Linked DNA regions of Homo sapiens: all the other regions are linked to region 1. Evidence: fine-mapped expression QTL. A gene starts in region 1. Each other region holds a variant in brackets. All regions are shown on one strand. Distances are from middle to middle. Region 1 holds the start of TSNARE1 (t-SNARE domain containing 1). Region 2 overlaps TSNARE1 (t-SNARE domain containing 1). Region 3 overlaps TSNARE1 (t-SNARE domain containing 1). Region 4 overlaps TSNARE1 (t-SNARE domain containing 1). Region 5 has its middle 23 kb from the start of ADGRB1. Region 6 overlaps TSNARE1 (t-SNARE domain containing 1). Region 7 overlaps TSNARE1 (t-SNARE domain containing 1).

Region 1 (4,063 bases):
CCCAGCATCTACAGAAGGCCAGACTCAGGGGAAGTGTCCAGGGAAGGTTCCTGGATAGAGTCAGAGCAGCCAGAGGCTGCCAGATGTTCATGGGGCCAGGCCAGCAGAGGAGGAGAGAAACAGAGGTGACCCAGCCAAAACTCAACCTCCTCCAGGAAGTCGTCTTGGATTTGCCAGCCTCCCACAGCCACCTGCATTCACGGCCTGTGCTGCTGTGTCCAAACATTTGTTCTACCAGATTTCTGCTGCGGTCCTGTGATGTATGGGGTCGAACGGTATGAAAGCAGCGGTTCAGTCGGGGGAAGCACTCCAGTACTAACAAACTTCAGCTTTCTTTCAACTCAATACTGTGTCCACACTGGGAGTATCCTAAGCAACAATCCCCACCCCTGTCTCACAGGCACTAAAGATAAAACAGAAAACAAGCAGATGAGTGACAATGACAAACAAGAAATACTGTAGGGAGAGCGGTCAGAAAGGTGAGCTCAGACATACCGGAAGCGGAGCTGCCCCCAAGCCAGGAGCGAGCCAGGAACTAAAAGAAGAGGCAAGTGTGCAGCAGAGGAAAGAAAGGGCGCCAGGTGTGGCTGGAAAGGCACCTGGCAGGATGAGGGGCGGAGAAGCACCGGCGGAGCAGCACGCGCGAGGCCCATTTTGAGCCGCACCACACCGCTCACAGAACTTCCTGTGATAAGCAGTGTTCCCTACCCGCGCTGCCCCACACAGCCGCCACCAGACACGTGTGGCTACTGAGTGTCGGACATGTGACCACTGGCACGGAGGACCTGAATCCTTCACGTTAAGGACAATGTAAACAGCCACACATGCCTAGGGGCTACCACACTGGACATGGCAGAGCTTCCAGAGCAGGAGGAGTGCGCCATGAGGCAACAAACACGAGGTCCCTGGAGAGTTTCTGCGGGGGCAGCACAGATCAACATCACCTGAAAGTCCCTGGTGGGGATGTCGCAGGCCCCAGTACCCAGGAAGCACCTTCTTACAACTTGGAGAAGGGACAGAAAGGCATGGAGAGGCAAGCACACAGGAACGGGGTCCCCAGCTCAGGCTCGAAGGCGGGCTCCGCTCGTTGAGCTGCAGGGCACCAACCCTTGCACCCAGCAAGTAGGCGCTGGGGCGCTCCCCGGGACGGCACTGACCTCCAGGCGCAGGCACCGGCTGCCCGGCCCAGAGCCCACCGACCTGGGGTCTGAACAGCGCGCGAGGACCCGCCGAGGGGCTCATGTGCCCGCGGGCCGGTCCCCGAAATGCGGCGCTCTCGCGGGGCTGCGGCTCAGGGTCCCTGGCGCCCCTGGGGTCCACCCCCGGCACGGTCCCGCCCCCTCCCCTCCCCACCGGCGCGGCCCCGCCCCCCGCCCGGCCTCCCGCAAGCCCCATACCACGCCACGCCGCGGCCCCCGCCGGGCTCCGGGCCCCGCGCTGGTCCCCGGCCGCCTCGCCCTCGCCGCCCCACGCCCGGCCCCGGCCAGGCCCCAGCCCCACCGCCGCCGCCTCACCTGGGCCTCGGTGGCTCGCGGACCGCTCCGGGCGCTCACGGCGGGCGAGGCGGGCGGGGCGGGCACCCAAACATCACGTGACGGCCCCTCCCGCCGCCGGCGTGCGCGCCCCCTCCCGCACCAGCCAATGGCCGCCGGTCCCGGACGCGCGCGGGGACTACCCGCCCCAGAGGCCCCGGCGCGGAGCCGGAAGCGGCGCGGACGGCGGTCGGCTGGGCCAAGAGGCCTCTGCGGGTGCGCGCGCGAGTCGGCTGTCCTCACTTGCCTGGTGGTGGGCCTCCGTTTCCCCGTTTCCCCGTTTTGCATATGGGGATGACGGCGAAGGTGGAGGTCACGTGGAGGGCGGCGGCCCGGCGCTGAGGCGCTTCGGGAGCGGGCTCCGCCCAGCCCAGGCCGAGCCCGGACCTCACACGGGCCAAAGCTGGAGCTTCTGCGGGGCTGCGCAGGCGGCGGGTCTCGGCCAGGGCAGGGCCGGGCACCTGCGCGTCTCGCGCTGCGGGGACGGGCGTTGGGCCCCAAGTCAGGCTGCACGGGCTCCGCGTGGGGCCGTGCTCGGCCGGGGGCTGGCAGGCCCCGCGGGGACTCCGGACTCCCAGTGTCACCAACGAGGAAACTGAGTCTCAAGACATCTGAGGGACCTTTGCCCGAGGTCGCAGCCCCTCCCTGGAGGAGCTGAAGTGCAGAGTAGGGAGCCCCTTGCGGAGACCCTCCTGGGACCTCCTTCCGCAGGGGCCTGGGGCGCCTCCCTTTCCCTGCTCTGCCTGCGGGCACTGAGCTCCCGAAAGACTCCAGCCCCTCGCTCTCCCGGTGACCTGCTGGAGAAGACACCTGGGAGGAACCTGCGGACAATGGGTGTGTGTCCTTGGGCCGCCAGGGTCACCTTTCAGCCTGTTTCCCCAGAGGTGAACCAAGAGTCACACCCAAGGCAGGAGAGCAAGAGTGATGAGTCCGCTGCACCTTCTCCGGCAAGCGGAGGTTCTCCCGCCGCCCTCACTCTGTGATGCTTGCTGTGCTTGCGAGGCCTACGCCAAAGCCCTGCGGGCAGCCCTGGGCTCCCGCGGACAGCCTTGCTGAGCTCCTGGGAAGGAGGCGTGCCCTCCCCTTCCCCCACCGCCCCGCTGGCTGGGGTTCTCTGCAGCCCAGGACTGTGCATGTGTGCGCACACGGGTTCTGTGAACACGAACACAAAAGTGTGCTCGTGGACACTGCGTGGTACTGTGTGCACACAGCGCACGTCTGTGAGCTGAGGGAGTGTTCCTGGACACCAGGTGCAAGTGCACAAGTGTGTGTATGCTGGCACAAGTGTGTGCCCAGGCGCAAACATGGGAACGGTAGTATATGGCACAAATGTGTGCACACATGGGTGGGAGGGAAGAGGGGCACATGCCCACCAGCATTCCTGGGCTGGTGCTCAGGCCGGCCTGTCCTGGGCCCACCCACGCTCCTTGCCTTGGTGTATTTCAGTCTCCCCTGGGCTCCCAGGAGGCAGTAGTGTGTGCCTGTCTTGCAGCCTCGCCATGATTTGGACAGGGCTTCACTCTTCGGCTAGGACAGCTAGAGTGCAGGGAAGCCGGCTCCTAACCAGGGAGGATGCCCATGACTGCTGACCCCCCAGCTTCCACTTGAAGGGGAAGGTTCGCCAGGACCAATGCCTGTCTGAGAGCTGTCAGTCTGGACTGAGGATGCCGGGTGCCTGGCACGGTGCCCACCTCCCCTTCCGTGGCTGGCGCTGTCTGTCTGGCCGCCACCTCACTCAGCCTCCTCTGACAGCTCCGTGTTCAGGTGTGCAAAGGAGGGGAAAGTGAAGCCCTTTCCTCCCAGGGCAGACCACCTCCAGGAGCCGCTTTCTTGACCATACAAGGCGTATATGGGGCTGTTTCTGTGCCTGGACACTGCAGGGGGAATGGTCTAGCGTGGGTAGGAACCACCAGAGGAGGGGCTCCGTACCTGTTGGCTCCTCCGAAATCTGGGATGAGCCCGCCTGAGTGCCCCACAGCAAGTCAGGGAAGGTAAACCTCTCCGTGGAAGAGCCAGGAGCCCACTCCCTCAGGCTGAGCCGATGGGGAGGGGGAGGAGGATGCTAAGGGGTCCTCAGGAAGGGATGAGGGAAATAGCCAATAGCTGCCTGGGCCTAGGGCCGGGGCTCCCCTCCCTTCCCTCATCTCTGCCCCTCCCTGGAAGAGGTCATCACATGACCTCGGGCAGCTCTGGGCTCCCTCCTTCCTCCAGAGAAGCAGGACTCCCTGGGAAGAACTCTGGTCCCACCCCTTGGCCAACCAGTGAGACCAACAGGGTGAATAAGTGGGATTGGCCCCAGGACGCTGAGTTCTGTTACCTAAGGGGGTGGGGGTTGCCTGGTCCTCAGCTGGCACCCCCCAAATTGGATCTACCATTCCAGGTCCCAGAGGGAATGTGGGCAACAAGGTTAGGGGGTGGTTCCAAGGCCTTCGGAAGGAACGTTGAGGCAGCACCCACTAAAGCCAACCTCAGAAATGCTCCCTCTCTGAATAGTAGCATGGACTTCTCAGGGTTTAAGCTGAATTTCCAGG
Region 2 (4,063 bases), 130 kb before region 1:
CTGGTCTACCCGCCATCCTGCTACCCAAGTGTCTATTCCTCCACATAGACACGCCCACCACATCCACTCATCTGTCCACCTGTCTGTTCATCACTGTCCAGCCAACCCCTTCCAACCTCCTCTTCCTTCTATTCATCCATCCATCCGTCTACTCACCCATTTATCCATGCTGTCTGTCCATCCACCCAGCCACTCACCCATCTACTCCTTCCTCCTTCCATCTACCCATCCACCTGCCCGTCTACACCTTCCTCCTTCCACCTAGCCACCCGCCCATCTACACCTTCCTCCATCTACCCATCCACCCGCCCGTCTACACCTTCCTCTTTCCATCCACCCACCCGTCTACACCTTCCTCCTTCCATCCATCCACCCGCCCATCTACACCTTCCTCCTTCCATCCACCTATCCACCCGCCTGTCTACACCTTCCTCCTTCCATCCACCCATCCAACTGCCCGTCTACACCTTCCTTCTTCCATCCATCCACCACCCGTCTACAGCTTCCTCCTTCCATCTACCCACCTGTCTACACCTTCCTTCCATCCACCCACCCGTCTACACCTTCCTCCTTCCATCCACCCACCCATCTACACCTTCCTCCTTCCATCCATCCACCCGCCCATCTAGAGGCCCCTCGCAAGCGGGAGCAGGACATTCTATGCAGAGGCGACTTCACAGAGGCCTCATCCCTCCTGACACACCGTGGGGAGGGCCCCTTGCAGGTAGGAGCAGGACATTCTACGCAGAGGCGACTTCACAGACACCTGGTCCCTCCTGACACACCGTGGGGAGGGCCCCTCGCAGGCGGGAACAGGACATTCTATGCAGAGGCAACTTCACAGATGCCTCAACCCTCCTGACACCGTGGGGAAGGCCCCTCGCAGGCAGGTGGGAGCAGGACATTCTATGCAGAGGCAACTTCACAGATGCCTCATCCCTCCCTGATACTCCCTGGTGGACCCCCTCGGGAACAGGAGTGGGACAGTCTATGCAGAGGTGACTTCACGGCCGCCTCCTGGGCCTGAGCCTTGCCCACCTCCTCTGCAGTGTGTCGGGGGGGCGGTGCCTGCTCTGCCAGGACTGAGCCCACAGGCTCACTGGGAATGCGGCACGGCGTCCATGGCACAGGTGGCTGGCCCAGTTGCCACTGCCCTCCTTTCCTCCTCCTCCTTCACCTCCTCCTCTTCCTCACTGTCCCATCGTCCTCCTGCCGTCCCAGGCATCAGCGCTGCTTCTGACCAGGTGATCCCAGGGTGCTCAGGAGGGGTCATCTTGCTGGCTGGCTTTCCTCTTGAAACAAGGCCTTCTGCGTGGTGTGGCCCTGAGTTTCCAGCGAGTCCACCTTGCCCGTCACCAGGCGTCACCTTCTGCCCATCACCTTCTGCCTCCTGGAGGCCCCTGGGCCTAGCTGCCCTCAGCGACTAGAGGTGCTGGGCCAAGGGCTGAGGCCAAACAGCCCAGAGCTGGCGCCAGGAGACCCAGCCCCAGCCTTGCCTCTGACCTCATCCTGCAGGTGACCTTGGCACAGCCTCTCCCAGGTCTTGTCTCCCGGCCTGGCGTTCACCAGCTGTCAACAGGGAC[T/C]GACCCTTGGTGACCTGAACCTTCTGAGTCTCATGGCCCCCGACAGAAATGGGGAGGCCCAAACTGGGATCAGCCTCCCCGTTACCACACACTCCCACAGTGGGGGTGCCCGGGCTGGGTCCCACTGGGGAAGCTCAAGGCAGCCCTGGCCTTTCCCTCATTCTCCACCCAGTCAGGCCCCTGCGTGGTTCCAGCTGCGGCCCCCTTTTCCTCTTGCACCCCTGAGGCAACTGAGGACCCTCTGCGGGCACAGCTGTGATATCCCAGCGTCCTGGGGATGTGGCTCCTCTCTCGTCACACCTGCCTGTGATGTCCTGGGCTCGTCTGGCTGCTCCTGGACCCTGGCCTCACACCCACTGCACCATCTCGTCTGCCAATACTGCCCCTGCTCCGCCCTCAAGAGTGTGTGCTCTCCTGGCCCCAGCTGGCCCAGGGGCTTCTTCTGCGCTCCCACCGTGGCCCATGCCACCCTCACCTTGCTGGACTTAATGTCCAGCCTGCCTGGCCCCTGGGACTCCTTGAGGAACAGGCTCTGGTCATCTCTGCCCGTCAGGGCCAGTGGGGAGCACCAGGCCACAATGGGGACAGAGCCAGTGAGGGGAAGACAGCGGCTGGGCCTCCATCTCAGCTGGGCCACAGTCTCCAGCCAGCCTGACCTGTCAGGTCTTCTTGTGGTGACCACAAGTCAGCAACAAGGCCCAGTGAGTGGCTAGTCCTCAAGGTAGCTCCAAGTCCCACTTCAAGAAAATAAAGGCCTGAGCTTTCTTGTTCCCTCTGAGCCACTGACCTGCCCCAACCACAAAGTCCCCTCTGCAGTTCCCCGCCCCAGTATGGACACTGAGCTGCATGTCAGCATCTGGCACAGGAGGTGGAGCGGGAAGGCCCCAAGGGCCCTCCCCTCGGCTGCACCCCGGATCCATGGGAGAGGGCGGCGTGGTGCATACAAGAGAGGAGACGGTGCCGACCGCTGTGGGCACCACGCAGACCACTGCTGCCGCAACCCCGCCACTCCCAGAGCCCTAGGGCACGGGCAGCAGACTGGTTCAGAGGAGGCCTGTGGGCATGCCCCTCCCAGGCACAGGGCAGGGCCTGGGCCCCTCCAGACAGACGGAGGGAGGGTTGGAGGATAGGGGACGGAGGCCGGGCCGGCCGGGCACTGTGGCCCTCACACGGACTTACTTGGTGCCGGCTGGCTCCAGCCAGGAGCTGGCGGGCTGCCTCCGCATGCGAGGACGCAGCCTCAAGGCTGGCTTCAATACTATCTGCAAATCAAGACAACAGAAGGCAATTACAGATGGAGGCCCAGCCGCCCCCGCCCTGAGGACACCCCCCAAAGGCAAGCCCAGGGAGCCTGAGCCCAGGGCCTGCAGAGGAGCAGAGGCTGCAGGGATGGGCGCTGGGCTGCCAGACGTGCCGAGGGCTCCGCGTGGTGTGGGCAGTGGGCAGCAATGACATTAGAACGGAGGCCTGGAGGTGGCCCAGGGAAGGGGACTCCTCAGTGCCCACACCAGGTGGGGCAGGAAGAGTCCACTCAGGAAAGGGTGGGAGTGGCAGGCGGAGGTGAGGGCTGGGGTCAAGTCCTGCTCTGTCATGACCTTGCCTGGGCCAGCCCCTCCACTCTGTGGCCACGGCCCCCTCTGAAGGGGCAAAGCCCCTGCCTTAACGTCTGTGGAGTTGCGACGCGGCTGATGGAGACCGGGTCTGCAAGCACAGGGCTCTGGTTTGCCACACGCACTGGCCCTCGACTCAAGCACAGGGAGCTGATCAGAAAGTTGTGCTGCCGTGCGGGGATCACGGGAGATGGTACCTGGGAAAAGCCGGGCTCGGTGGCTGCAGCAGTGCCACCCAGGGAAGCCACATCAGCAGGGCCCACGGGAGACACCAGACCAGGGCCGGGGCAGCCCCAGGGATCCGGAAGATTCCATGCTCAGCATTGTCTTCCACCCAAAGGAAGGACACATGCCACCTGGGCACCAGGAGCGCAGGCACAGCCGGGGTCCTCAACAGAGCCACATGCAAACACGAGCAAACACGAGCACGGGCAAGCCTTCTTCCCGGAGGGAGGTTCCTTGCAAGGCCTGCCTCCAATCAGGCAACTGGAGAAGAGCTTGGGAGGCAGGAGTATCTAAACAAACTGTGCACCTGCAGTGCCTACCAGGGCACAGACCTGAGCTGACTTGAGCCTCAGGGGTCTTAAGGCCTGGGATAGAGAGGCCATTACAACCACAGGGACTGCTGCCAGGCACAGCCTGGCACGACTGGCTCTGAGGGAGGAGGGTCCTCAGAAAGACAAGGCCACTCCCCACCGTCCCAGCAAGGACTCCCTACTCTCATCAGGGAACTGTGGCCCCATCTCTGCAAGCCCCCTGGGCAGGAGGTGGAACCCATGAGCCCTGCCTTCAGAAGCCCCCACCCAGGCCTCACAGGGATCCTTGAACCCTTGGTCACCAGCTCCACCCCACCCTTGCCCCCAGCGCAGG
Region 3 (4,063 bases), 120 kb before region 1:
CCTGGCCTGCACAGGCCTGAGAGGACCCAGATCCTCCTCCAGCCCCACCCCATCAGGAGGCCCACTGACCAGGCCCATCCCCCAAGCCCCACCACAAGGCCTAGTGCCCAGGCCCATCGCCCAAGGCCCACAGCCCAGGCCCCTTGTCCAAGCCCAGCCACAGGGTTGGCTGGGTCTACATGCGTCTCCCAACCAGTCCGGCCCACTCTGCCCATGGGTCCCAGCCTCATGCACCGCTGTGAGCAGGAGCAGCTGAGGATGCCCCAGCGCTCCAAGTTCTGCCATGGCTGCCACTGGGGGCGTTTGAGGCCAGCCCCTGCCTGTCCTGTGAGGCTGGGTCCTTCTGTCCACTCTGTGGCCCTCAAGGAGCTGGTCCTGCTTCCGGGGCTTCGTTCCCAAAGTCCTTCCAGCAGCTCCCAGGAAGGGGAGGGTCCAGCGGGGCTCTGCTTCGAAGGGTGTGCCACCATATGCGGAGGACGGCGAAGGAGCTCCTGGCACGGTGTCTTGAGGAGGAGAGGAGGTGCGGTGGGAGGAGGCACGGAGGCGGCAGGAGGAAGCACGGAGCCAGCATCACCCTCAGAGCCAGCGTCACCCTTGGAGCCAGTGGCAGCTGCGGGCTGCAGACGAGGCCTGACCAGACAGAAACGCCTGGCTTCCGGTGGTCCCTGGAGTGGGCCCGTGGGCTCGGAAGGGGGCACAGCGTGCCTGACAGGCTGAGAGTCACCGGACAGCACCACGTGTGGGGCTTCCAAGTGGGCCCAGAGGGAGGGGCCTGCAGAAGGAGGGGGAGGCCACTGCAGGCCAGAGTGAGGCACAGCGTGGGGCGGGGAAGAGTCAAGCTGGGGCCCAGGCTCCTCCCTGGCTCTGCCCAAACTCCTCAACGTGACCAATGAATGGACAGGTCACCTGCTGCTCCCTGGGAGCTATGTCAAGGGCCAGCTGGCTGGAGGTGCATATGGGCTGAGGCTCCTCCCACCTGCTGGCTGGCCTTGCCTTCTCATGGTAGCTGTACGCTGGGGCTCTGGGGCTGGGGGAGAGCGGAGGGAAGCCCTCCTTCTTCCCAGACACCCCTGTCTTCAGACCCTGGGGCCAGCTGGGCCCTGCTGCCCTGCATGGGAAAGTAGGGACTTCTCCCTGCTGGGACCCACTGGTTTGGAAGACCTGGCTGCCTAAGGACAGCCGTGCTCACCGCTGGACTGCATCTGGAAGGGGAGGGCTGCCCGTGGAGAGGAAGGCCAGGCCGGGACCCGGGGCCAAACAGGCCTCCGGCCACACGACACCAGGCGGGAACGGCAGAGGCCAAGATGGGGGCCTTGGAGGGCACCAGGGCACCCTGGGCTGCACCCGCTGCTGCTGCACGTCGGGGAGCTCAGGCCTTGTCTCTGCCCCTCACCAGGCACTGGTCCCAGAGGCCACCTTGTGACCGCCTCCCCACGGTAGCGCTCACCTCTCTACAGTGACTAGGACCCAGCATCCCATCTGGACACCCGGTGGGCACGGCTTGAGGTGGCGTATATGGTCGAGCCCCTTGATGGCACAATGCTTGGCAATGCAGGGAGGACCCTGAGCTGGAACCGCAGCCCTTCCACTACCGAGACAGGCAGAACCCTCCCTGGCCCCGACCCTTGGTTTCCCCACCTAAAAGAAGAGATGGGCCAGGAGGGTGGCGGGCCATCTCCATGGGCCTCTGGGTCTCCCTCGGAGGGTCTCCCTCTTGGGAGCTGGTGCAGAAGGCTCAAGCCCACTCGCCGGCCCTGCTTGCCCCAGGGCAGTGTGGTCCGGGGGGGCGGGCTGTGGGGAAGGCCCACTTACTTGGCAGGGGCTCCGTGGTCTGGCCCTCGCCTTGGGGACCGTGGGCAGAAAAGGTCTCTGCCACCATGCGCTCCACAGGTGTGAGGAGGAGGCCGGGGGCGGGGCCGCCCTCCGCCAGCTTCTTGCGCACAGCACCTCGCAGGTCCCGCCACTTGTGCTTGAGGTCCCCCAGGTCGCGGCGGCAGTAGCCCAGCGCGTTCACTGCCTGCAGGATGCGGCTCCACACGCGGTGCTTTC[G/A]GGCAGGTGTGCCCCGCAGCGCCCCGAACAGCAGCGGGTAGTGGCGCCGCACCCTCTGCACCAGCACCTCCGTCTCCTGGGGGCTGAAGTTGGGCTTGCGTGTCTTGGTGCGGGAGTGGGGGCCCGGCCGCAGGGGTGTGGAGCCCGGCCCGGCACCCAGCAGCAGGGCTGCCGCGGCCGGCTCGGGGCTGCAGCTCTGCTGGCAGATGGCTTTGCTGCTGCTGGACCCTGGAAAGGCACCAGAGGCTGAGCAGGGGGCAGAGACCCTGGGGAGAGCAGCCAGGTTCGGGGTCACAGGTCATCACAGGCCCTGCATCTGTGCACAGCGGCCAGGCCTCGCATCGGCACCCAGCATAGGCAGCCTACATCCACTATACAGGGGCCCTTCTGTCTCAGCTACTCTCTGGGCCTCCCGCCTGTCCACCCGGCAGGTGCCCTCTGCCCTCCCCGGAGCCCTGACCACGTGTGGTGGGTCAGCCCTGGTTTGTCCCCCTCCCCACGACTGCTCCCTTCCCTGAACTGCTGGCATGAGTGCCCCTCGTGATCAGTCCTTCACTGGGACTGATCAATCTGTCACTGGGACTGGGTGGGCACCTGAAGTGGACAAAGCGCTCCACAGACTCAGCACATCCCAGCCCGCGACAGGTGGCCAGGGGCAGAAATGGCTACAGCCACCTCTGGAAGCTGACAGTGGGGAGAAGGGGGGAGGACAGAGCGATAGGAGGGGTCCTGGGGAGAGGAGGTGGTAAGGGAGTGATGGGGCAGCCCAGCAGGCCCTGTATGGGGCCACAGAGCAGCTGGAGGGGGCCACAGAGCAGCTTGAAGCCCAGGCTCCGAGGGGATTGAGGGGCCGGCCTGGCCCAGCCCCGCCCCAGGGAGCAGCAGGGTGCTTGAGCCGCAGTCACTCTTCTCCTGGGGACACAGCACAGTACCCGGGAAGAGGACGCCAGCTGCCTGAGGGTCTCCGGACACACTGCCAGTTGTCAGAGCAGGAGGGACCAGGAGGCTGTTCTCGGCACAGGCCCCAAGGTGAGGCCACAGCTCAGTCAGGGCATGGAGGGAGAATGAGTGGGTGGGGTGGAGCCTGAGAGTGCTGGTGGGCAGCTGAGCGCTTTAACCAAAGGCCCGTGGGCACCAGGGGCAGCCTGGCTCTTCCTCAACTGAGGAAAAGAGACACCCAGCCAGAGCCAGGAGCCTCTGCCCCACTGGCCTGGGAGCCAGGGCTCCTGGCAGCAGCAGGTATAGACAGGGCGGGATGAATGGGTCAGAGCCCTCCAGTGGGAGCGGGAAAGACACCAAAACACAGCAGGGATGGGGTCCCTGTGGGAGGGGGGCAAGGTCAGCATCCCCTCAAAAGCCCCCTGCAAACCTGGAGCCCCACCATGGTTGGGGGCCGCACAGGCAGGCCAGGGCTGCTGTGTGACTACAGTGGGAAGAGGACATGAGAGACTCTGGCTCTCCACAAGCAGAGGAGGCCACAGCGCATGGAGTCAGAACTGGACACAGTCACCCCAGGGTTAGGGTCAGGGTTAAGGGGACCCAGAGCTTTTAGACCTCATGGTGAGGACCTCTCTAGGGAAGCCAAGGGCAACCCCATAGAGGAAGGGCTGTGGCCCAGGGTGGGTGAGCAACCAAGGCGGGTGGGGGCGCTGGGGAGTCGGTGGGCCTGGGCGGGGTCACTGGGCACTGTGACCTCTGTCCCATCTGGGAAGGCCCCTCCCTTGCCCCAGGTGAGGTTTCCTGAACGGAGCCTCCAGCCTCCCTGGCTCCAAGCTCAGCCCCTTCATCCTGACCTCTCGCCTGTCAGGTCCTTGATGGGTGGCCTCCAGCAGCAAAAGGGTAGGGCTTCTCCTGGGGACTCAGAGGCAAGGGACAAGACTGTGGGCCTCCCACTTCCTGCCCCCACATACAGCCTGGCGCTAAGGTAGGACCTGACTCTAGGCACCCGGGCACCCCTGCTGCTTCACTTCCTTTTCCAGAGGAACGCAGAGCTGAGGGCCCACGGTGCTGGCTG
Region 4 (4,063 bases), 89 kb before region 1:
CCGAGTGCTGCAATCCCCTTGTGCTCTAGGGTTTTATTCCTAAGGGTCCTGAACTCTAATTTTTGCCTCTCCAGCCCAGTAAGACCACTAAAGCTATAAGCCACCACTGCTGTTCAGTCTCAATAAGCTGAGACACAAGCTGGCAAATGTCCTGGGGGTGAGAAGGCAGTGATGATGAGCCTGAGTGATCTGGGAATGCGTGCCTCTCTAGGCTTGGCTCCCAGCTGCTCCGATGTTTCCCCCATGTTGGATCCATGTGTGTCTGCATGTCTGCATCTATCTGTGTGTCTCTGGGTGTCTATCTGCATGTGTCTACATGTCTGTGTTTATCTGCATGTGTCTGTGTGTCTGTGTTTATCTGCATCTCTTCATGTCTGCGTGACTGTTTATCCGTGTGTCTGCATTTATCTGCATGTGTGTCTGCATGTCTATCTGTGTCTCTGTGTGTTTATCTGCATGTCTACATGTCTGTGTTTATCTGCACGTGTCTGCGTGTCTGTGTTTATCTGCATGTGTCTAGATGTCTGTGTTTATCTGCATTGGTCTGCATGTCTGTTTATCTGCATGTGTCTGTGTTTATCTGTGTCTGCATGTCTGTGTCTCTGTGTGTTTATCTGTGTGTCTCTACATGTCTCTTTATCTGTATGTGTCTGCATGTCTATGTGTCTGCGTGTCTGTGTTTATGTGTCTGTGTGTTTATCTGCATGTTGTCTACATGTCTGTTTATCTGCATGTGTCTGCATGTCTGTGTTTATCTGTGTCTCTGTGTGTTTATCTGCATGTGTCTACATGTCTGTGTTTATCTGCATGGGTCTGCATGTCTGTTTACCTGCATGTGTCTGCGCATCTGTGTTTATCTGCATGTGTCTCTATGTGTGTTTATCTGTATGTCTCTGTGTATCTGTGTGTCTCTAGCTCTGTCTCTGCAAGTCTCTGTGTGTCTGTGTCTCTGTGTGTTTATCTCTGTGCATCTGTGTTTATCTGTGTGTCTGCATGTCTGTGTGCATCTATGTGTGCATTTTTCTGTATGCATGTGCCTGTGTTTTTTGTTTTTGTTTTTGTTTTTGAGACAGAATCTCACTCTGTCGCCCAGGCTGGAATGCAGTGGCGTGATCTCGGCTCACTGGAACCTCGGCCCTGCCTCCTGGATTCAAGCAATTCTCCTGCCTCAGCCTCCCATGTAGCTGGGATGACAGGTGCTCGCCACCACGCCTAGCTAATTTTTGTATTTTTAGTAGAGATGGGTTGTCTCCATGTTGGCCAGGCTGATCTTGAACCCCTGACCTCAGGTGATCCGCCCACCTCGGCCTCCCACAGTGCTGGGACTCCAGGCGTGAGCCACCGCGCCCGGCCACGTGTGTGTGTGTGTTTTCACCCAGGTTTCACAGTGGCTCTCAGCAGGAGAGCTGGTCTGACCTGTGAGTCCTGCCCAGCACATGGCACCGTCCGCAGTCATTCTTTGGGAGCTGAGCCCTTGTCAGGCACTGTGCCAGGGCCCAAAGGTCAAAATGCCCACGTTTTCAAGGCTGTGCCTCAGGGCGCCCCTCAGATGACACCCCTGCCCTTGGCCCTCCCCGCCCTTCCATGGAGCACAGATGGCAGCGGATTCTGGGCTGTCCCCTAACAGCCACTGACCATGGTCAGTACTCGGCACCCACCTGTTTACTGCCCCTCTGCGCCATGGGAAGCAGCGCTCTGGACTTTTCTGCAATTTTCTGTTGAAAAAAGGACAAGAGAAGAAAGACAGGAAGAGCAAAAAGGGTGGGGAAGGGAGAAGAAATGGTCAGCTGAGTGCAGGGCTCTGGACGACGGTGCAGCAAAACACGCCTGCCACTCCCAGAAGAGGCTGCCGGGGCCGGGGCTGAGCTCTGCCAGCGACTCGCTGGATGGCCTCTGTCCATGCCACTCCCAGAAGAGGCTGCCAGGGCCGGGGCTGAGCTCTGCCAG[C/T]GAGTCGCTGGATGGCCTCTGTCCACGCGTGGGAGCTCTCTGGGCCCCAGTTTCCTCACCTGTCAGAGCAGGGTGAGACTTGTTCTTCCTGCTTCCCCAGAGCTACTGTGGGTCAGCTCTTGAAGGTAAATGTCCTCTAGGACACATGCCCTGAGGCACAGTCTGGATCCTGGCTGCCTAGAGACTGTCTGCAAGAACAACCCTCTTCTCTGCCTTTGGGGATGGGGCTGCACCAGGCCCACAGGGACAAGACAGCCATGACAGTGCTCCGGGAACCGAGGCCGACCCCACCTGGCCTGCAGACCCCCACTGCCCCCACCAGCACCTCACCTTCTGCACCACTCCATAGCACTGAATGGCATCTGAGAGCTGGGTTTTCAGCCGGTCCAGCTGAGGACGCTCCTGCTGCAGACGCTCCTGCTGCAGAGAAGGTACAGCTGGCACGGCATGGGAGGCTTGGCCCTGCCCCAGCAGCCCCCACCACCCACACCTCCTCCCGTACCGATGTCCCACCTTCCCACACTCAGAATGGGGCTCGCCATCAACTACTTCCCCTCCGTGTCACCGTCGTCTCCACAGGCACACCCAGGGTCCCCAGGGACACCATCACCACAAAATCCGGTGCAGGGGTCAACACCACCTGCCGGAGCCAGGAGCTACCCAAGGCACATAAACCCGGCCCCACACCACCTCCGCGAGCAGCACTGTGACTCCTCTTCCACAGCGCAGGACGTCGTGGCCCTGAGTCCCGAGTGACTTGTCTGTGGTCACATAGGTGGTGGGGCCACTGCCAGAACCATCCCCCTCCCCAGCATCTCGCCTGTATCTGGGCTCCCCGTGGCCTCCAGGGTCCACCAACCCCAGTTCCTTCCTGCTGGGATGTTCGCCACCACACCTCAGTGCCCACCAGGCACCTGCTTCAGAGCTGGAGCTGGAGAAGCACGGAGCCGGGGTGGGGCTGGACACGCACGGAGCCGGGGTGGGGCTGGACACGCAGCCCTGGGGCCCGCCTCATTGCTCTGGCTCACCGTGGACACCACCCACCAGCAGCAGCACCAAGGAGCCCACAGCTTCCTCCCAGCACCCACCCCATGGCTATCGGAGGATTGGAGAGAGCCAAGGCTAAGGCGGGCTGGTCTGGGGTAAACCTCTGACAGCCGAGGGGCACTGGGAGCAGCCTACCACAGCCTTGACCTCTTCCCACAATCGAAGGCACTACATCTCATCAAAGCGTCCACGGCCCACAGAGTCAAAGACGTGGTAGGCACTGACCGTGCACCCACCAAGCCGCGTGAAGGAGCCATTCGCTTCACGAGGAAACTGCCTGCACGGACCACCCAACTCTGCTCTCACCCCACAGAAACGCCTCTCAGAATCGCAACCCTCCACCATGTGGGGCCTTGCTCAGCACCTCACGTAAGCGCAGCGCCTCCCGTAAGAGGGACCCAGCGTGTATTCTTGGATGAAGGAGTAAATGAATAAGTGACTCAGGCACACCTGAGTCAGAGAATGGAGAACAAAGCTACAGAGGAAGAGGTCAGACACAGGCGTCGATGCTGGTCATGACGCTGCTGACATCACTGCCCGAGGGCACAGGCCAGGGCAGCACCTGGTCCCCACAGAGTGGTCCCCGCAGGGCAGCCATGGCTATGAGGAGTGACCCATGCATGGAAAGGCTCCAGGCCGCTCAGCACAAAGCTCCCAGTGTTCCTGTCATCTGCCTTTAGGGAGACTCTGGCCACCCCATCACTGGACAGGGGACTGCTGCCTCTGTTACAGTTTTTTAGTGTAACTAACTTTTGAACTGACTCTACTTTTTTAAGTACAAGTTTTATTACTGTCTAATTTAGATCTGATAAAATCTACCCGCTTTAAGTGTAGAGTTCAGTAACTCTTAGTTGTACAGCCATCCCCACAACCCAGTTTTAGAACATGCCCATCACCCCAGAAAGGGCCCTGCGCCTTGCCTGCAGGCACCCCAAAACCAAGCCCTGCTCCCAACCCTGACAACTGCTCATCGACTTCTGGTCTCCACAGATTGCATTTTCTGGATGTTTCACACAAACAGAACCATACACTGTGCGTTTTCTTGCGTGGGGGCATGCAGTCTTCCAGC
Region 5 (4,063 bases), 23 kb after region 1:
CCTCTGCATTTCTCCATCTCTGCGGCCACCCCCTGCCCTGGGTCCGAGGTTTGTCTCCCCCGACCAGACGGTGGGTTGACTGTGAGTAGGACAGTGTATGGGTCATCTCAGAGTCCACGGCCCCCAGGAGGCAGCCATGGGAAACGCTGACCACCAAGGGTGGGCCCTGTGCTGGGTGATCTGGCCTCTAATAGTCCAAACATTCCTAGGAGGTGGCATCTGTAGCATGAGCTGCCAGTGGCCCCTGGGGAATAGAATCCTGGGTCTTAAGCTGGGTGAGTAGTTGCCAGAATAAAGACTTCACTTCACAGCCTGACTAATTTCTGACCGATGGGATGCATAGGAAGTGATGTGTGCAACCTCCAGGAAGTACCCTTAAAGAGCAGTGTAGGCCGCTCTTCTCCTCTGCTCCTTCCTGATGGACAGAAGGTGAGTGTGACAGCTGGAGCTCCAGCAGTCACCTTGGACCATGAGGTATAAGACAGAGATGAGGAGGAACAGTGTGGGATGCAGTTGAGGGCCAGAGACGCTGACGTCATCCTGCTCCGTGGAGTGAGCCATCGTGAAGGCCAAGTCAACACGTCGGAAAGAAGCAAAGTATGGAGAGTCAGAGGAGCAGAGCTGCGGCCCCATCACGCTTCATCCAAAACCCGCAACAGCATCAGGTTTTCCATTTGCTTAGGCTAATCCACCATCCACCATCTGCTTGCATGTGGTTTCAGCCAGCTTGAGTTGGGTTTTCTGTTATGGGTTTTCTGTTACAGGCCACTGAAAACTTCCCAACACATACAGTGGGAGAGTCATGTGTTTCAGCTGGCCTGTGAGCCTGGGGAACCCAGGCAGACTTCCTAGAGGAGGAGCCCCACTGGGAGAAAGGAGGGAAGGGTGCTCCATACTGTGGGTGAGGGCATGGGGGACAGGTCCTCAGACCAGGAGGAGAGCTGGTACCCCCTGGACTGATAACCTGGCAGCCCCTGGGTCCCAACCCCAGGGCCCTTTGCCAGGCTCCATTTGGCCCAATTTAAAATTCTCAGGGAGCACCTCACACCTTCCCTGGAACTGTGGAAAGCATGGCATGGCCTCTCTGTACCCTTCAGATTTAGTTACCGCACCTCCCAGCTTTCCCAGGGCTGCCTTCCTCTGACCACATGCACACAGGATACACAAACATGTGCACTTGCATATACACATGGGCTCTGTGTGCACCTCTGTGTTTACATGCCGGTGCACATGCCTGCACCCCATGTGTGTATTCACATGCCCTGTACACCCATGTGTACACCATGTGCGTGTGGTGTACATGTGCACGTGCCCTTATGCTCATATCATGTCCACGCACACACACGTGTGCACTTGCATATGCATTCTGTATATACAAGTGGGTGCACACATGTACGCAGAGTGTCTGCATGTTGTATGCTCCTACACACACGAGGAGCATGCGCAAAGCTGCACGTGTACACTTGAACATGTGTGCACATGCATGTACCCACCCATGTATACACGTGGTGCACACATATACACATGAGGGTGTGCATACAGGCACACGCCAATATGCCCTACTCTCCATACAGATTTAGTGGAGGCAGAAGTGCAAGGGGCGTGGGGTGAGCCAGGGTCCAGCCAGACCTGAGGGAGACCAGCTGAC[A/G]CCACAAGAGAGGGCCATGCCCTCCTCGGCCATCCGTAGCAGAGCTTGCCAGGCCCCCGCCAGCCTTGGGTTTAGCTATGGCTGGGGGCAGAGGTCAGGAATCCAGCTCTGGGTCCCCCATGCCTCAGGCTGTGCAGGACTTGAACCAGTCCCCAGGCCAACCCAGCACCACACCCTTCCCCCTCTGCAGGATGGGCCTCCCCTTTTCACCCCTACCTGGATTCCCAACCAAAGACTAAAGACTTCAGTAGGCAGGGAGATTTGCACATCCTCAGGTGGTCAGGCTTCAGAGCTGGGGTTGGTGGGTAGGCGGGTAGAGGGGCTGGTGTGGCTGAAGCCCAGGGGAGTGCTGGGGAGGTGGTTGGCAAGCTCCAGATCTCTGCTCTGGGAGAGAGCAGGGGGCTCCTCCCTGGGGCCCAGCGGGACCTCAGTTTCACGGGAGTCTCAGAGAGCCAAGCCCCCTCCTCTCCCAGATTTCCTTTGTCCCACAATCCCAATGTCTGTGCCAACCAACCTGGTGCAGACCCTCGCTGCCGTTGGTGCTGGTGAGGTACCATGCTTGGGGGCACGTGGTGGCTGAAGGGAGGGAAGGTGTGGAATGTCTCAGATCAGCAAGTTCCAAGCACGGCTCACCGGCCTCCGCCCATGTGGCCTCCATTCCTCCAGGCCAGGGACAGGGATGGGGCAGGAGACAGCCTGTGTCTTTTATTCCTTTTATTTTTGGGAAAACAACCTTCTCCACCTCTTCAGGATTTGGGGAGCTGCTGTTCTTCACACCCTCTAAATCTGGGGCCAGCAAGTCACCAGCGACCTCTGGTACTACGGAGGTCAGCCCGGGGGGATGAGTTACAATGAGTTACACAAGCCCGTTCGTGACCCACATCGCCTGCCTGACACACTCCAGACACTGCAGGGAGTGCAGGCTGGGATGTGGCACTGGAGGGCGTGCACGTGGGCGTGTGCTGAGATTGCGTTCCTTACACACACAGAGTCTGTGTGTGTACGAGTACATCCTCATCATAGCCTTGGTGGCATGCCCTGGGCCCCCACAGATCCTGGCCAAGGATCTGGGCTCTGAGCTGTGGACCTACCCATGTTAGCGGCTGGATCCAACAGTGCCTTCTGCCCAGGCCCATGGCGAGCCTGGCCCTGTGGAGGGACGCCTCCTCCGTCATTACCTGCGTCGTCTGTCCTCTCTCAGCCACCTCCACCTGCGTCACTGCCAGCCTGCCTCAGCACGGAGCCTGCTTTCCCTCCCACCCCCAGGCCCTCGGTTCTTCCCACGTGGGATATTCTGGCTGTACGCGCGTGACCGTGACTGTGGGGACTGGCCCAGGGCTTGACTGTGGGGACTGGCCCAGGGCTTTTCAGGGTTGGAGCTGGGATTGGAGCCCGCCCTGCCTCGGGGAAGATCCTCGCTCCCTTTCTCCACGGCACCTCTGTGATTCTCGTCACCTGCCAACACCAGCACCAGGGCTGCCCCTCCTGACGGCCCCCTCGCCGTCTTTCTGGGCACACTCCATCGGCACAGCGTCTTCACTGTCCTCCTGACAAACCTCGTGCCACCCCCATCAGCTTCAGCACCACCTCCACAGCAGCCGTGGCCAGCACCGACGTCCTTTTCCGTCACCGTCAAGCCTCAAAACTGGGACCGTGGGTAATGGCGTCACCCCATCCGCCGTCTCTCTCTAGCTGCCAACGGCGCCTTCACCAGACACGCCCGGCACCACCTTCCAGGTCAGCAGTCCCAGCCCTGCGTATCGGAGGCCTGCTCTCCCACAGCGTCCACAGTCACTGGGCCAGGCTCGCACCTGTGAGGGGCCAGGACCCATACCGGAGCCCGGCGAGGCTCCCTCGGCCACCCTCTGGGTCCTCCTGTGCTCCTGGGGCACAGCCCATGTGGGCCCAGCCACCCAGGGCTGAGCGGGCTCTGCAGTCCCCAAGGCCGGGGCCCACTCCACTCCCCAGCGTTTCCCGTCTGCTAATTTCCTAAATGAACACTAATGCAAATGGCTCAGGCTGGCTGGGTTGGGTTTTTGTTGCCTGTTTATTTATTTTTTCCTCTTTGCTTCTAACTCCTTTTTCTACCCTCTAAATTGGTGCAGCGCGGGGAATTCACAATTCACCTCCTCACTCCCATTTCGGCACGCGCTCCTCTCTGCTTCCTTAATTATCTCATTTGTAATTCTTCATCTCCCCTCCCTTTCATCTCCTTCCAAACACCCCAACCAGTTAAAATAAATATATATTTTTAATGTTGAGGCGCCTAATTTAATCTGGCAGGCAGTGTTCTGCAGTCACCGGCAGGCATCTCAGGCTGAGTCACGTCGTGGGCCACAAGGCTTCCCAGCCCCCCGCCCGTCCTGCCAGTGGGCTGTGTGGGGAGATGGCTGGGGGCAGTGTGCCCTGGAGCCA
Region 6 (4,063 bases), 47 kb before region 1:
GACATGGGGATTAAAGCTCCAATTCAGGGTGCACAGGGGCCGCCGGCCCCTCCCCAGCCCCAAGACCCTGGCTCCATTGTACCCATTCCCTAGGCTACTCCAGGCTTCTCACCAGCCCCCAAACAGCAACCCCCCCACAGAGCCCCTTCAAGGTGGCCTCTTGGTCCACTGGTCCCTGCAGGAACACAGAAACACAGCCTGAGGAAGGTGTGCCCCCTCCCCTCCCAAGAGGGACCCCCAGCAAGGTGAGCCCTCTGGCCGGCTCTTAAAGACCAACCCCCACCGCCAGCCTCCCAGGTGGCTTCTGGGAGCGCTGGGCCCCCGCCATGCAGGCAGGGCAGCATCCACTGCATGTGAGTCAGGCCCAGGCCGGGCTGAGAACCCGGCACCCATGCAGCCTGCCGGCATCTCTAGCTCCATCGTCTTGAGCCGCACTCCACGGTAGTGGGGCTGGGTCAGGCCCGGGGTTGGCTCTGCCCTGGCTGAATGAAACCTGTGCAGCTGGCAAGAGCCATGGGGCCTCTCTGGGCCTCAGTTTCCTCATCTGTGAAGTAAGGGGAAGAAGAGGACCTGCGTCTTAGGGCTGTTGTGAGATGCAATCAGACACACATTATGGTTGGCAAACAGTAAGCACTCAACACATAACTCATGGGAGTGGCGCCACCCTTGGGGCACCGGCCGTCCCTGGAATGGGGAGCTGGGCATCCCGCCCAAACCTCTCCTCCCGTGGGCTGCAGCTCCAGGGACTCAGAGCAAATGACCAGAGGATAACGGGAGCTCTCCTGCCCAGACACTGCCAGAGCGTCCTCCCTGTGTGCAGGGGTCCCTGTGCGGGCAGCTTCTGACTGGCCTACACCCTAATGCTATCACTACGGAACCTGCTGGCCAGGCCACACCTTAAGTTCTAAACACCTCAGGGCAAGGGCTCCACCCGCCCACACAAACACCTGAAGTGCGAAGGCAGGTTTCAGAGCAAAGTGAGCCTCACGCCAGCTGAGTACAGACCCAAGTCCCTAGGGCCGGGGAAGGCGGTGTGACCCCACGTTCCCTCTGAGCAAGACACCCGCCTGTGCCATCCAGCCCTGCCCAGAGCAGGGCAGCACCAGGACACCATCGACCCAGTGGGCCCCACTGCCCTGCTCAGAACAATCGGGACCCAAACAGCTCTGGTTGCTGCGGATCGCACCTACTAACATCCACTGCATTAGAAACTCAAACGGAGGCTTCTGAAATAGTAGTAACTCATTTTAAATAACAAAGCTCTTACTGTGAACACAGATAACATCTTTATTAAAAACCACTGCATTTTCCAAAACAAAACCCCTCAGAGACAGCGGTGCCGTCCTACAGTCGTGGCACCCTCCGGGCAGGCCCAGCAGGACAGCTGGACTCACACCTGCTGCTGGCGCAGGCCTTGTTCTGCCCAGGGCGCACGAAAACACCCGGCCCCACGCAGAGAGGCAGCAGGGAGAGTGGTCCTCAGCCCCTCTCTCCACAGGTCTCAGGCCTCGCATCCCAGGTACCTGCCCAGTCGCCATGGCCTCCCTCCCCTCTCTGCACGCTGCCTGGAATGGGGAGGTGGGCAGGAAGTTAGGTCTCAGTAGGAGGCAGGAGATGTCTGCTGCCCCAGGGGAGAGTGGGCTCTGAGAGCGGGTGGGATTCCAGGAGCCCCGAGTGAGAGGCAGGTCTCAACGCAGCGAGCAGAGAGCTCTGCACATGTGCCGGGGCCTCATCGGGAAAAGCTCAGATGTGGAAGACAGCCCAAGACACATGGGGGAAACACAGCGTGGAGGAAACAGACACTATCCAGAGAGAAAACTTTAACACGTAACAGCATAGCAGCTAGCACTTCCTTAACACTTGGCGCGTGACGACAATCACAGAGGCGCTTTACTACACGCGCAGATTCATCCTCACAACCCTCTAAGCTGGGGCCACAAGCATCTTTACCTTGCAGCTGAGGAAACTGAGGCATGGAGAGGTGAGGTAACTTGCCCAAGGTCCCCCAGCTGCTAAGTGGTGGAGAAGGTTTCAGGCTCGGGCAGTCTGGTTCCAACACCTGAGTTCTCTGTACTGCCCTCAAAGGAACGAGCTCAGATAACAAAGGCTGTGTTAACAGCCCCAGGACAGGAAGGGGGGACGCCAAGAAAGGGACTTTCAGAGAACACAGAGGAGCACCGAGAAGCCAACATTGGGAGCAGCAGCAAAGAGCTCCAGAGAAGGGGCAGGCAGAGCGGGGGCCTCCAGAAACCAGAGCACGAAGACACCGCAGAGTCAGAGGAAACCACCAGCCCTGCACAGGCACTTCTCCATCCGAGGAAGGAGAGTTCCAGAAAGAAGGACAGGAGGGCCAGGGGAAGAGAATCGTCAGGAACAGCATTCACACTG[A/T]TCCCAGCCAGAGCTCACTCGAGCTGGTTAGGGGCCCCTCACGCCCCGTGAGACCTCAAGAGCACAAGCCGTCTTGGGTGAGGGCTGCTGCACAGGCTTTCAGAGAACTCGGGGAGGGGCACTCAAACCCCAGGTGGGGAGGGTCCAGCAGTCCCAAGGAAGCGGCTCAAGGGGGCTCTGAGCACAGGGCACTACTTGCCATCACCTCAAATGATGGTGGGGCGCTGGTGGGGCCAGCCAGGCCTGACACAAGACTTGTGTTTGGGGAGCTCCCTCTACTTCAGGATTGGGAGCAAGCTGCTGGGGGCACGTGAGGGGCTGGCAGGGCAGTGAGCAGGTGGCGGCAGGAACCAGGGCCCGGGAGGGAGGAGGGTGGAGCTAGGGATTGGCACGGAACCCAGGGAGAGTCAAGGACAAGTCCTAAGTTCTGGCCCAGAAGGCACACGGACAGTGCTTTGACTTCCTCGTGCCAGAAAGTGAGGGGAGCCGTGTGCAGGGATGAGCCCAGAGGGGCTGGCACAGGCAGGCAGATACCCAAAGCCCTGGAGGTGGGGCTACATGCAGAACGCGAGTCCACTGTGTAGGGACAGTTGTTAAGGAAGAGAACTCCCAGGGAGAGAAGCCACCACGGAGAGAGGAGAGGGCCCCACAGACAACACAGGAGATGGGGACGAGTCAGGGGGATGTTAACCAGAGGCCACGAAAGCCACGGCGGAGGCTCCATGAGAGGAGGGGGCGGCCAGCGGCCATCACTGCAAAGGGCGGCGGGGTCTGCTGGGTTTCAGGACAAGGGGAGCAGCCAGCGGCCATCACTGCAAAGGGCGGCGGGGTCTGCTGGGTTTCAGGACAAGGGGAGCAGCCAGCGGCCATCACTGCAAAGGGCGGCGGGGTCTGCTGGGTTTCAGGACAAGGGGAACAGCCAGCGGCCATCACTGCAAAGGGCGGCAGGGTCTGCTGGGTTTCAGGACAAGGGGAACAGCCAGCGGCCATCACTGCAAAGGGCGGCGGGGTCTGCTGGGTTTCAGGACAAGGGGAGCAGCCAGCGGCCATCACTGCAAAGGGCGGCGGGGTCTGCTGGGTTTCAGGACAAGGGGAGCAGCCAGCGGCCATCACTGCAAAGGGCGGCAGGGTCTGCTAGGTTTCAGGACAAGGAGGAGCACAGGAAGCTTGAGGAGGGCTCATGAGAGGTAGGAACGCTCATGGGAGGAGGGAAGGGATTCAAGTCTGAAAGAGCTGAGCTGAATCAGAGCTGGGGCCCCTGGGGGGACTGGAAGGCTGCCCAACTCCCCTCTGCTCCGGCCAGGCACATGGAGGGGAGTGAAGATTTGTGAGCTGCTCCACCGCCACCAAAGAGACCACCTGACCAAACTCACAATTTCATTTCGCTGCATATGGAAACATGAAACACCTCTGTGTTTGCTCAGCCAGCTCAGGGACAAAGGCTAACCCACGGTCAGGGCCACCGAGTCACCGCAGGCAGAGGAGGCCAGTCTGGAAACACGAAATGGCAGCACATGTCTTCTGCCTATTCACGGCCCCGCCCAGCAAGCCACTCTGGGCCCCTGGGGACACCTGGAATCCAGTGGGTGCAACCCCCCCATCGCTGGGAGACCACAAGGGGCCATGGGGTACTGAGCTGTACCAACCCAAACCCCCCAGGTGCCCCACGCTTCCA
Region 7 (4,063 bases), 98 kb before region 1:
CTGCAGGTGGGATGGTGAGGCTGCCCTAGCCAGGTTCTCCTTCCCAAGCCAGCTTCTTCCTACACACCACCCTGACACGGGTAGAAGCTAGCAGAAGCCTTTAAATAAATAAATATGTGGATAGATGAATATAAAATAAAAGATCTAAAAAATCTGTTGACAAGCGCAACTCGTCCAAGGTGGTAATTATCACCTCCCCTTCCTGGAGTGGGCGGGAGGAAGTGAGCAGTGCCTGGCGGTGGGAGCCCAGGGAGGCGCTGGCCTCGCGCCAAGCCCAGCAACCCCAACGCCTCCTTCCTACGGCTCCAGCCCCTAGGCTTCCGGGGCTCTTGCAGAAAGAGCCTGGGCTCAGGTTCCGGCCCAGCAGTGGTGCCGGCTGTGAGGCCCCAGGCATGCCACGCCCTTCTCTGGGCCTCACTGTCCTCATCTGTAGAATGGGAGCAGCGGCACTCACAGCCCCGTGGTCTATGCCCCTCAAGCTCCACCCACACGGTCTGACCCCTCATGTCTGCAGAGCACAGCAGCTGTGCACCTCACTCCACCAGGAACCCGAGCACGAGGCTCTCCTAAGGTGTGAGGGCTCAGGAACACTGCCCTTCACTTCCTGTGTGGGCCTGGGGAGGGTCCTCAGCTTCCCTGAGCCTCCAGCTTTCACTTCCAGGGGATGGAGCTGACCTCAGCACGTCCTAGTGTCGCCTGGAGAGCTCGAGCTGAGGCATGCAAGGCTGCAGCATACAGCAGAGATGCCATGAGATGCCACCTTCCGGACTCAGGTGGGAAACCAGGTTGAGCTGTGCTTTTCCCAACGCTGTGAGCTACGGGGTAGAGACGTTCCTCCCAGGGGGGACATGGCCATACACGCCCCTGGAGAGCGGCATGACGGTTGAGCACAGCCTCCTCCTGCCAGCGGTGACAGGCCCTACAACAGCCCCACTGACTGGGGTCCCGTGGCCTGGGTAAAGTCAAAGCCCCCAGGTAAACATAACAAACTTTTGAGGTAAGAGGTCCCCGGGGCAGCCCGGCTGGTGTGCCCGAGGACGGAGATGTAGGAGCCTGCCCTCGGCCCTGACAGCAAACAGCCACAGGCGAGGGGGCTGGAGGAAATGTGCTCCCTCCCACGATGAAATCCTCCAGGGCAGCTAATGCGGGCGAGTGAGATGGCCAGGTGGAGAAGGCACCACAGGACGTTCTGTGCGATGTTCCCTGGACTTGGGGGTTTCAGTGACAGCTCCCCAGGAGCTGTGGGCAGAGGGTGCCAGGCACCCATGGAGACCTGCCTCGGATCTGTGCCTTGGGATTGATGCCACCTCCTGCATGTGGAGAAGGGGAAGCTCAGGAGGATAGGGGAGGGCGCAGGGGTGGGAGGGGGGTGCAAACGGGGTTCCGTGTGGACGCCCAGGAAAGCGGCCAGGCTGGGGTGCGGGCTGTGTGGACACCCAGGAAGGCAGTCACACTGGGATGCGAGCCGTGTGGACACCCAGGAAGGCGGCAGGGCTGGGGTGCGGGCCAGAGGAGACCCCGCAGGTGCTCGGTCTCCCTCACCTCCACAGCGGGAGGATCGGGGGCCTGGTGCCGCTCTCCCCAGCAGTGCAGGACAAAAGCCAGGGGAGGAAGAGATGGCTTAGACGCCCGGGTCCCTCCGCGGCCTCCTCCTGAAAGGCTCACAAAGCGCTCCTTTATTCTCCCCACAAAGGCCCAATTTGGGTCTTGAGCTCC[G/A]AGGCTGGGATTAGGGATTTGCTGGCAAGGTGCTGGGGCAAGCGCAGAGGGGACGGCCCTGTGATAGTTTTCCAGCTCAAGAGGCAGACAGACAAAGGCGGCTTTCTCCTCCCCACAGGGCTCAGGGCCTGGGTCCCTGTTCCGACACGTAGGGAAGAGACATGCTCTAACGTGAGTGCTGGAGACAGGGCACACACGGTTTCCCGTGGGAAGAGACTCCGCTCTGCCAGGCATTCAGAAAGCAGGGACCCGAGGCCGGCGCTCAGGGCTCTCCAAGGCTCTGGGAAGGAGACCACTTTCTCATGCACTCCGACCCGAGGGAGGGCAGGGGCCAGGGCAAGAGGCGCTCACACAGGGAGTGGTGGTGTCTTTTCAGGAGCCCCAGATAGCTCACTGTTTCCTCCAAGCAGCAACAGACTCTATTTATTCACTGGTGGAGTCTCTGGAGGCAAAGCCCAGAACATCAGGACGGACACGGCTGTGGCAATGCTTCCCCCAGCCCCACGTTAAATCAAAGGGAAATGGACCCAGAGACAAGGGGCGACCTCCAGCCCTGTGCCTCAAACATGGAGGCGTGTCTAGGCAATTTCCAGCCAGCCCGTGAGAGTGAAGCAGGTCTTCACTTCTGCAGCCCGGCTGGGGACACACGAAGTCCTGGTGGAAATGTAGGCTGAGGTGGCCAGTGACGGCAGAGACAGAGCATGACCTGCCACTGGGGCCATTGCCCTGATGCTGCCCCAGGGACTGGGATGCTGCTCACTGGCTGAGCCCAAGCTGGGTCTGAGACTGACCCTCGACCCAGCTGAAAACTACGGACCACAGCCAGGATCGCCAACTCCACACAGGCTGAGCTGCTCACCCCACACCCAGGGGAGACAGGCAAGAGACGGGGAAGGCAGCAAGTGCCCCTCGCACCTGCCAGGGCTGCCCGGCCTGTGAGTAGCAGCCCCCCAGTCCCCCCACATCAGCCTAGCATCAACTTGGCAACAGTCCTTTTGTTGAACAGGGTTGCATATCATCTCATCATTTATAGTTTGCAAATTCCTAGAAATAATCTAACCTTCCATGATTTCTCAGAAGCACTACTGGCCACTCCCCACCTTTTTAAAAGAAAATTCTACCGAAAGGCAATACATCTGTGTTTCAATGCCAGGTGCAAAGGATATAGCTCTATGACTGCTCACAAAGGAAACACATCCCAGCCAAGACACAGGACACTGGTCAGGACCCCCGGGGCCTCCCTCCAGCACCTGTCATCCCAGGCCCCCAACAGAGGAGAACCCAGTTCCAACTTCTAACACTGTCCACCAGTGGGGCCTGGTTCTGAATACTACAGAAATGGAATCCCACAGTCTATCCCCTTGGGTCTCAGGCTTCTTGGACTCAGCGTTATGTCCGAGGCATCACTGGTGGGGCCACTGATCATACAGTAGCCACAGCTCACTCTTTTGGCTGCTGTAGAGTCCCCAGTGGCATGAATTCAGCTTGGACTCAGCGTTATGTCCGAGACATCACCAGTGGGCGTGGTGGCCACAGCTCACTCTTTTGGCTGCTGTGGAGTCCCCCGTGGCATGAATTCAGCAGGTGCTGCTTTTCTGTGCTGGTCAGACTGGGCGGTGTTCCAGGTTGTGTCACTGCGTGGGGGCTGCTATGAGCATTCTCCCATGTGACTTCTGTCAACACACAGTTGTCCTGTCTCCACGGGGGAGTGGCCGAGGACTTCCACAGATACCAGAATCTGTGGGTGCGCAAGTCCCTGATATAAAATGACTTGGTATTTTCATACAACCTACGCACATCCTCCCATATATTTAAATCACCTCTAGGTTGCCTATAATATTTAATATGATGTAAATGCTATGTAGTAAATAGCATAGTTGTTCTGCCGTATTGTTTTGGAAATGATGACAAGAAAAGAAGAGGCTGTCCATGTTCAGAACAGCTGCCATCTTTTAAAAATATTTTCAGTCTGAGTGGTGGAATCCATGGATGTGAAACTCATGGATACGAAGGGCCAACTGAATATGCATGTCTGTTGGGCAGAACTGCAAGATCCTAGGTCAGAAAATGCTGAACTTGATATTCTCGAACAGTGTTCCAAAGTGGTGATGCAAAGGCACACCCCACCAGTAAAGGCATGAGAGTGCAACCGCCTGCACGCAGCCCACGCCCGGCTTTTGCAGAGGTTTTCACTCATGTTTGCTCTAGTTATTTGTGTGGGTGTGGTGTGTGGTGATTTACCATCATGGGTTTCTTTGCCATTTTTCTGATAACTCGTGTTGCCAAGTACACAATCACAGGCTTATGAGCCAACCGGAATCCTCTTCTGTGAGGTGCCTGTGGAAAG

The links. PIP is the estimated chance that this variant, and not a neighbour inherited with it, causes the effect.
Region 2: its variant is fine-mapped to the expression of TSNARE1 in whole blood (TOPMed, PIP above 0.99).
Region 3: its variant is fine-mapped to the expression of TSNARE1 in whole blood (INTERVAL, PIP above 0.99).
Region 4: its variant is fine-mapped to the expression of TSNARE1 in thyroid (GTEx, PIP 0.95). The same link has a PIP of 0.9 or more in whole blood.
Region 5: its variant is fine-mapped to the expression of TSNARE1 in whole blood (INTERVAL, PIP 0.98).
Region 6: its variant is fine-mapped to the expression of TSNARE1 in whole blood (TOPMed, PIP above 0.99).
Region 7: its variant is fine-mapped to the expression of TSNARE1 in whole blood (TOPMed, PIP 0.93).

What each region holds. Positions count from the first base shown.
Region 1 is chr8:142,401,590-142,405,652 of GRCh38, forward strand. TSNARE1 (t-SNARE domain containing 1) reads right to left here and starts at 1,593. Exons shown (of 14, transcript NM_145003.5): 1 at 1,515-1,593. RefSeq lists silencers at 1,152-1,291, 1,432-2,001, 2,442-2,491 and an enhancer at 1,723-2,498.
Region 2 is chr8:142,272,019-142,276,081 of GRCh38, forward strand. It overlaps TSNARE1 (t-SNARE domain containing 1), which reads right to left. Exons shown (of 14, transcript NM_145003.5): 12 at 2,763-2,845. Among named protein-coding and RNA genes, the nearest start is that of LINC00051, 76 kb to the left of the region's middle. The variant T/C (reference allele first, on the strand shown) is at 1,584.
Region 3 is chr8:142,278,048-142,282,110 of GRCh38, forward strand. The region is part of intron 11 of TSNARE1 (t-SNARE domain containing 1); the gene reads right to left. Among named protein-coding and RNA genes, the nearest start is that of LINC00051, 82 kb to the left of the region's middle. The variant G/A (reference allele first, on the strand shown) is at 2,050.
Region 4 is chr8:142,312,726-142,316,788 of GRCh38, forward strand. It overlaps TSNARE1 (t-SNARE domain containing 1), which reads right to left. Exons shown (of 14, transcript NM_145003.5): 8 at 2,278-2,367; 9 at 1,659-1,715. Among named protein-coding and RNA genes, the nearest start is that of TSNARE1, 88 kb to the right of the region's middle. The variant C/T (reference allele first, on the strand shown) is at 1,948.
Region 5 is chr8:142,424,765-142,428,827 of GRCh38, forward strand. No RefSeq gene overlaps it. Among named protein-coding and RNA genes, the nearest start is that of ADGRB1, 23 kb to the right of the region's middle. RefSeq lists an enhancer at 2,401-3,175. The variant A/G (reference allele first, on the strand shown) is at 1,649.
Region 6 is chr8:142,354,801-142,358,863 of GRCh38, forward strand. The region is part of intron 1 of TSNARE1 (t-SNARE domain containing 1); the gene reads right to left. Among named protein-coding and RNA genes, the nearest start is that of TSNARE1, 46 kb to the right of the region's middle. RefSeq lists an enhancer at 478-1,245. The variant A/T (reference allele first, on the strand shown) is at 2,389.
Region 7 is chr8:142,303,992-142,308,054 of GRCh38, forward strand. All of the region lies in intron 9 of TSNARE1 (t-SNARE domain containing 1), which reads right to left. Among named protein-coding and RNA genes, the nearest start is that of TSNARE1, 97 kb to the right of the region's middle. RefSeq lists an enhancer at 461-550. The variant G/A (reference allele first, on the strand shown) is at 1,717.